Linked DNA regions of Homo sapiens: regions 1 and 3 are each linked to region 2. Evidence: fine-mapped expression QTL. A gene starts in region 2. Each other region holds a variant in brackets. All regions are shown on one strand. Distances are between the middles of the regions.

Region 1 (2,761 bases), 42 kb before region 2:
AACTGAAGCAGCTGGACCAGCTGGTGCTTCCTGTCTCCATTGGTTGGGCTTGATCAATATGCAAACAAAAATTCCTTTGGAATTTCTCACTTGAGAGGAGCCAATCCCGCTGTCTGGTGCCCACAAAAGACATTCACTTGGCTGGGCGCGGTGGCTCACGCCTGTAATCCCAGCACTTTGGGAGGCCGAGGCAAGTGGATCACTTGAGGTCAGGAGTTCAAGACCAGCCTGGCCAACAAGACAAAACCCTGTCTCTACTGAAAATACACCACCAGAGCTGGTGCGCACCTGTAGTCCCAGCTGCTTGGGAGGCTGAGGCAGGAGAATTGCTTGAACCTGGGAGGCGGAGGTTGCAGTGATCCGAGATCGCACCACTGTACTCCAGCCTGGGCGACAGAGCAAGACTCCATTAAAAAAAAATAAATTAATTAAAAAAAGACAGTCAATTTCCCGGACACATACACAACACACAATTACACACAAACCCACAAGAGTGTGTGGCCCAGGCTGGACTGCAGTGGTGCGATCATAGTGTTACTAGAAAAAGAGGTCCTGATCCAGACCCCAGGAGAGGGTTCTTGGATCTCATGCAGGAAGAAATTCAAGGCAAGTCTCAGGGTGCAGTGAGAAGACATTGTTTATTGAAAGCTACTCAGATACAGAGTACAGTGTCCTCAGAAAGCAAGAGGAGGAACTCATCTTTAAGTTTTTCTTATGTAGCAGGTCTTGTTTATGTAAAAGCTAAGCTAAGCCACATCTATGTGTGGGTAGGCTGAAGGCATGACAAAATTTATTATTCTGTTGATTTAAAGAAAACTATCCTTGTGTTTTGTTTTTTTGTTTGTTTTTAGTTTTAGTGTGTATGTACGTAAAAGCATAAATACAAGTATCTTGAAAGCAGCCAGGCATGGTGGCTCATGCCTGTAATCCCAGCACTTTGGGAGACCAAGGCAGGCAGATCACAAGGTCAGGAGTTCAAAACCAGCCTGGCCAAGATGGTGAAACCCCGTCTCTACTAAAAAATACAAAAATTAGCCGGGCGTGGTGATGCGCGCCTGTAGTCTCAGCTACTAGGGAGGCTGAGGCAGGAGAATCGCTGAAACCCAGGAGGCAGAGGTTGTAGTGAGCTGAGATCACACCACTTGCACCCCAGCCTGGGCGACAGAGCAAGACTGAGTC[TCAAA/T]CAATAATTATCTTGAAAGCATATATTGCTATGGGCATTGGGACATCTTGACTTTCTGTTGCTGTAGGACTGTGTCCCTGCAGGTGTCTTTAAGCTGTTTCCTTAAGTGTAAATATCTTATGACCATGGGTGGTGACTGGAAAAGAATGTGCCTCATTAGTCTCAAGATGAAGCTGAACTTAAAATGGCGTTATTCTGGCTCTCCTGGGCTCCCGCTTCCCTAACAATAGCTCGCTTCGGGCTCAAACTCCTGGACTCAAGCAATCCTCCCACCTCAGCCTCCCAAAGCACTGGGATTATATGGGTTGATTTAAATAAAATAAAAACATTGATAAAAGCTTACTAAGCCTTGATGTTTGATTGTCAATCTATGTCTAATTATAATATTTAAGATTTTATATATTTATATTTTTAATTATTTGAAACCAACCAAACCTCTTCTTTTTGGAAGAGTTTTTTGTTTGTTTTTGTTTTTGTTTTGAGATGGAGTCTCGCTCTGTTGCCCAGGCTGGAGTGCAATGGCACGATCTCAGCTCACTGCAACGTCCGCCTCCCAGGTTCAAGCAATTCTCCTGCCTCAGCCTCTCAAGTAGCTGGGATTACAGGCACATGCTGCCACGCTGGGCTAATTTTTTGTATTTTAGTAGAGACGGGGTTTCTCTGTGTTGCCCAGGCTGGTCTCGAACTCCTCAGCTCAGGCAATCTGCCCCCCTCAGACTCCCAAAGTGCTGGGATTACAGGCCTGAGCCACCATGCCCAGCCCTTGGAAGAGTTTTTTAAAGGTTATAAAATTACATTTCCAAGTGTTAAAAATAAGTATATGAGTTTTAACATCATTTTGTAGCAATAACATCATTTAACAAGGGAAAGAAAAACTTTCAAATAGATGTTTTAAAATGATCATTCCACCCTCTTTCAATAAGATGCATCTTTACCTACAAAGGCAATCCATTACAGTTTTTCAAAAATATTTGCTAGGTATTCCACTAATCGCCACTTTTCACAGAACAGGTCATTACATTTGGAATTCTTGCTATTCCAAAAGAAAAAAAAATGTAAATATCAAATTAACCAACCCTCTTTTCAAAGATCATTAGCAAATGAAAGCAGGCCACTGAAGAGAAATGTTGGAGAATGCTTGCTGACCCAGGAATGTGTGGAACCCGGTGGACCTCAATTCGAAAAGCGTCATATTAATTAGTTTGTCGGATTTTTCTGTTTGAAGGAGCTTGTGAGAGAAACATGTGTTTCGGACATGATCCCACCTGGAAGCTGCCATTAGCGTCTCCTTAGTGCCTTGTCGAATGAGAAACCCTATTAATTCCAGGGGTATTACCTGGAAGTATTAAATGACAAGGAGTTGGGTGGCAGTTAGGGAGGCCTGTTTGTCTTCTAAATGTATCCATTCCTTGTTGGGGTGCTCTGACTGCATGCAATGCAGACAGGAAAATTAAATAGGAAATATTAATCCTCATCTCCTCTTGGAATATGGCATGTCAGCAGGATGACCATACAGCATGGCTTGTCTGGGACAGTCCCAGTTATACCTGTTGCCTTGGTGTCCTGCCTGGGTCAGCA
Region 2 (2,734 bases):
ATGCAGGCAGCTGCAGGGCTGTCATTAGGCACGAGAGCATCCCAGAAAGCAAAAGTGCCCAAAAAATGGACTCAGATGCCCCCTCGCATCTGAGTATTCCTGACAGCATGTGAACATTAATTATTAATTTTCTGTACCTCAGTTTTCCGAAGCCAATCTTTAGGACAAAAAAAAAAAAAAAAAAAAGGAAGAAAATAACTTAAATGCCAATTTGTAGTTAAAGTTTCCTCTTTGCCTTGAAGACATCAAAGCCTGTAATAGTTTGCCTGTAGGGAGTTTAATTCAAACACAGAGCGGTAAGGAGATCCGGGCTGGTCCACACGATCGTCTCCACAGGTCTGGGCGACCTGAAAGTGCTGCGGATTGGCCAAGCCCAGCACGGCCAGTCCAGTGAACACACGCAGGGGGCCCGGATGGCACCGTTTGGCGCCGAACCCCTCGGCCTCTCTCCGCCTCCCGCCCGGCTCCTAACACCCGGCGCCCCAAGACTGAGCACGCGTCCTCCGGGTCGCGGAGCGGGCGAGGGGTCACCGAGGCCGCGGGGCCGACCGGGGTCACCTGTGGCCCGGGAGGCTCTGCGCCGCCCCCATCCCGCGCCGGCCGCCTCTTCCGTGGGCGCTGGGCCTGGGCGCCCGGGGTCCTCGGGTCCGCGGCGTCACCGGCCGGGCTCGCGGCCACGCACGACTCACCCGGCCGCGTCGCCGTTCTCTGCCGCTGCGAGGCTCCGGAAGGGAACCCAAGCCGGACGCTCGCCCGGGCCCCCGCCCCGCTGGGACTGCTGGGGTCACAGCCCCGCGCGGCCACGCCCCATTCTCGGGGCTCCAGCGTCCCCGCGCGCCGTCGACCCACGCGCGTTCCCGGCCCCGCGCGACCCCCACCCTGCCCCCCTCCCCGCTCGCGCCCCCGGCTTTCCCGACTTTGGAGCGACAAACCCAAGCCAGCGTGTCCGAGCGGCTCCCAAGCCAGACACGTACTCCAGAGCGGGGAGCGAGCGAGCAGAACGGCGGGCAGAGGCGCCGGAGCCGCCCCGGACCTCAAATACTCGCGGGGAGGCGGGCGGAGTCCCGGGTCTCGAGCTACCGTCGCCCGTCCGGAGCGCGAAGGGAGAGGCGGGGCGGGACGTGCGGGTCAACCCCACCCGCCAGCCGGAGGGGCCGCGAGTCCTGCCCGGAGGCCTTGACTTTGACCACAGTACAGGGCCCCACCAGCGTGTTTATGGTGCCTCTGTGGAGACTGAATGCTGGCCTGTTTCCAGAAAAGGGCCGGCTCCTGATACACGGCCATCCACTGGGGAGTGCAGAACACGCATTTAAAAATGAGCAGACTAGATACAGGTCACAAAGACTTTGCTGATGAAACAGCTTGCGGCAAAGAAGCCAGCCAGGGGCGGGCGCGGGGCTCACGCCAGTAATCCCAACACTGGGAGGCCGAGGCAGGCGGATCACTGGAGGTCAGGAGTTCCAGACCAGCCTGGCCAACATGGCAAAACCCCGTCTCTACTAAAAATACAAAAATTAGCCGAGTGTAATGGCGCGTGCCTGTAATCTCAGTTGCTGGGGAAGCTGAGGCAGGAGAATCACTTGAACCCGGGAGGCAGAGGCTGCAGTGAGCCGAGATGGCGCCACCGCACTCCAGTCTGGTCCGTCTCAAAAAAAAAAAAAAAAAAAAAAAAAAAAAAAGTAGACTAAATAGCTTTTGCAAAGCAAAAGGAATAGTCAAGCAGAGTAAACAGACAACCTACAGAGTGGGAGAAAATCTTCACAATCTATACATCCGACAAAGCAGTAATATCCAGAATCTACAAGAAACTCAAACAAATTAGCAAGAAAAAAAAATCCCATCAAAAAGTGGGCTGGCATGAATAGACAGTTCTCAAAAGAGGATATGCAAATGGCCAACAAACAAGAAAAAATGCTCAACATCACTAATGATTAGGGAAATGCAAATCAAAACCACAATGTGATACCACCTTACTCCCGCAAGAGTGGCCTTAATCAAAAAATCAAAAACTCAAAAAATAATAGATGTTGGCGTGGATTTGGTGAAGAGGGAACACCTCTACACTGCTGATGGATAGTACAACCACTGTGGAAAATAGTATGGCGATTCCTTAAATAACTAAAAATAGAACTACCATTTGATCCAGCAATCCCACTACTGGGTATCTACGCAGAGGAAAATAAGTCATTATACAAAAAAGATACTTGCACACGCATGTTAATAGCAGCACAATTCGTAATTGCAAAAACATGAAACCAACCCAAATGCCCATCAATCAAAGAGTGGATAAAGAAACTGTGGTATGCGTATACGGTGGAATGCTACTCAGCCATAAAAAGGAATGAATTAATGGCATTGGCAACCTGGATGGGATTGGAGACTGTTGTTCTAAGTGAAGTAACTCAGGAATGGAAAACCAAACATTGTATGTTCTCACTCATAAGTAGGACCTAAACTATGAGGATACAAAGGCATAAGAATGATACAATGGACTTTGGGGACTTGGGGGAAAAGGGTGGGAAGGGAGTGAGGGATAAAAGGCTACAAATTTGAGTTCAGTGTATACTGCTAAGGTGATAGATGCACCAGAATCTCACAAATCACCACTAAAGAACTTACTTGGCAGGGCGCAGTGGCTCATGCCCGTAATCTCAGCACTTTGGGAGGCCAAGGCAGGCAGATCATGAGGTCAGGAGTTCGAGACCAGCCTGGCCAGCATGGTGAAACCCCCGTC
Region 3 (2,761 bases), 230 kb before region 2:
CTCAAGAGCAGGAGTCTGCCAGTGGCCTCCCCGGGTCATCACGAACCGGATCAAGCACCAGAGAACTGAAGACGAGAGAAGGCACACGCTACCTACAACCCAGACGTCTTTTCTTCTGAGTGTGAAGTCCATTCTTTGGGAGCAGCTGTGGATGTTGCTTGGCTTATATGTTCCTTCCCTGCCCTGATCTAGCACCAGCACTTCTCAAGCAGTGTCACCCTTTGCTCTGCCCTGAGGAGTGGGTGTCACCGAATTACAGAGGGTTCTTGCAGAGTCCTGCACTGGACGTCTCCAGTTACGTGATCAGCAAATAATCTGCCTCTTTAAAAGGAAAAATACGATGGCCTTGTGTGACAGATCTGAAACAGGTGTAGGGGCATTGGGAGACTGCTGGCAATAATTTACGACGCTGTGAATGCGTATTTGTTCCCAGTTCAAGGACAATTAGCACCACTGTATCTGGCAACTGCTGGCTGCCGAGGCTGGGCCACTGCCAGGGAGCTTTCTCCTGCCCTTACAGGGTGAGGAGCACAGGGATGGAGGTGGCGAAATGCAACTTGAAAAATCACAAAACCTCTGCCCTCAGCCTTGTTATTTTGAGATCTAAGTTATAGTCATTACGGATGGTGCTGATGGTACAATTTCACAGCAGATGGTCAGGAAATGCCACCTGGTGTTAAATCCACCAACTGCAATCAAAATAGGAAAATCCACACTTTACTCCAACCCACTGTCCCTCTGCACATCCTGTTAATAAATATTTTGCTTTGCTTGGTCTTGGGAGCATTTGTACCGGGCATTTAAACACTCCAGGGACAGTGGGGTCCCGAGTCTGCTGGGGCCATGCTTGTTTCTACCCCCACAGCTTTGGGATACCCCCTGGTTGGGATATGGAAGAACTTAAGCCAGGTTTTAAAAAGGAATTATTCCCTATGAAGGAAGGCTTTCAAACACAAATCAACAAGGGTTAGGATAAATTCAGAAATGATTTGCTTAGGGGTCTTCCAGGCGCGGATGTGGAACGGTGGGCTATGCTGACATATTTTTGTAGAGTGAGCATTCACAACCTGTGTCCTACTTTTATACTTGGGACCATGCCTTTTGGATGGAGGATGAGTAACTAGGGGTGAACAGGCAGGTGGGGAAAACCA[A/G]CGGAGGAGGAGGAGAGCACAGACAACCCCGGGCCTCAGGAGCAGGGATGGGGGTGGTACACCGAGGAAAGCAGTGAGAAGCACGCAGGGCCGAATGGTTGGCTGAGAATATCACCAGGCACATTTGTGTTTCATTAAGCAAAGGGGTGTGGGGGTGTATATGAGACAGAGATCCTACTAAATATTCAAGTAAATCTGGGGGAAATACAACACGAGGGCTATTTACTATATAGATAACAGAGAACTGACAAAAGAAAAAAAACCCAGATTCAACTGTACAAAAATAATACTAATTATAGTTATGAAACCTGTTCATCATTTATAACTTAATGGTATGGACACAGTAGCTATCGAGCTCATCACTCATATGAGTCAGACCAATTTGGTCTTGTAAATTTTACTTGATTTCAACACCACACCGTGTACGTATGTTTAGATCTAGTTTATTATGGCATATGGTTATCTGCTGAAAACTTTTAAAATTTTACACAGTAGGTAGAATTTAGGTGATTTTGAACAGCCTTTGGAACATAATAGAATAAGAAAAGTCATTAGAAAACAGAATAAAAAGGAAAGTAGGAAAAATAGGCCACACACAGCAGCTCATGCCTGTAATTCCAGCACTCTGGGAGGCCAAGGTGGGAGGATCACTTCAGCACAGGAGTTCAAGACCAGTCTGAGCAACACATGGAGACCCCTGTCTCTACAAAAAAATACAGAAAGTAGCCATGGGTGGTGGTGCATGCCTAGTCCCAGCTACTTGGGAGGCTGAGGCAGGAGAATCACTTGAGCCAGGGAGGTCAAAGCTGCAGTGAGCTGAGATCACACCACTGCAATCCAGCCTGGGCGACAGAGTGAGAAGCTGTCTCAAAAAAAAAAAAAGAAACAAACAAACAAGAAAAATTAAAAGAACAAGGCCGGGCACGGTGGCTCACGCCTGTAATCTCAGCACTTTGGGAGGCCAAGGCAGGTGGATCATGAGGTCAGGAGTTTGAGACCAGCCTGACCAATGTGGTGAAACCCCGTCTCTACTAAAAATACAAAAAAAAATATAAAAAAAAATGAGTCAGGCGTGGTTGCGTGCGCCTGTAATCCCGGCTACTCAGGAGGCTAAGGCAGGAGAATTGCTTCAACCTGGGAGACGGAGGTTGCAGTGAGCTGAGATCGCACCACTGCACTCCAGCCTGGGTGACAGAGCAAGACTCCGTCTCAAAAAAAGAAAAAAAGAAAAAAAGAAAGAAAGAAAAATTAAAAGAACAAGAACTACTTAAGTAGAAGGAAGAAAAGAAGGCTATGAAGTGTTTCATAAACTCAGTAAAACATAGAGGAAAGAAGGAAGATGGCTAAAAATGAATTCAGTAGAAGAAAAATAAAAGAAATAGAAAAATCTGATTAAGAGCAGGAAAACAAAAAGAATCTGAGTTTTATCAAACTATTTTAACAAATATAAGTTGTTAAATCTATATAAAATTCTTCCCCTATTGGGACTGGAGAGTAGTTCCAGACTCTAAAGAAACTGCACTGCAAGCTTCCAGAACAAAGCTTTCATGTCACCAGAGTCTGAAATTCAGAGTACATTCTTTCCAGTGCACCACAGGGGATGTTTCTAC

The links.
Region 1: its variant is fine-mapped to the expression of SERPINB6 in whole blood (TOPMed, PIP above 0.99).
Region 3: its variant is fine-mapped to the expression of SERPINB6 in whole blood (GTEx, PIP above 0.99).

Annotation. Positions count from the first base shown.
Region 1 is chr6:2,928,946-2,931,706 of GRCh38, forward strand. No RefSeq gene overlaps it. Among named protein-coding and RNA genes, the nearest start is that of SERPINB9, 27 kb to the left of the region's middle. RefSeq lists an enhancer at 1-503. The variant TCAAA/T (reference allele first, on the strand shown) is at 1,180.
Region 2 is chr6:2,970,559-2,973,292 of GRCh38, forward strand. SERPINB6 (serpin family B member 6) reads right to left here and starts at 1,009. Exons shown (of 7, transcript NM_004568.6): 1 at 975-1,009. RefSeq lists an enhancer at 790-1,314.
Region 3 is chr6:2,743,905-2,746,665 of GRCh38, forward strand. All of the region lies in intron 2 of MYLK4 (myosin light chain kinase family member 4), which reads right to left. Among named protein-coding and RNA genes, the nearest start is that of MYLK4, 5.6 kb to the right of the region's middle. The variant A/G (reference allele first, on the strand shown) is at 1,152.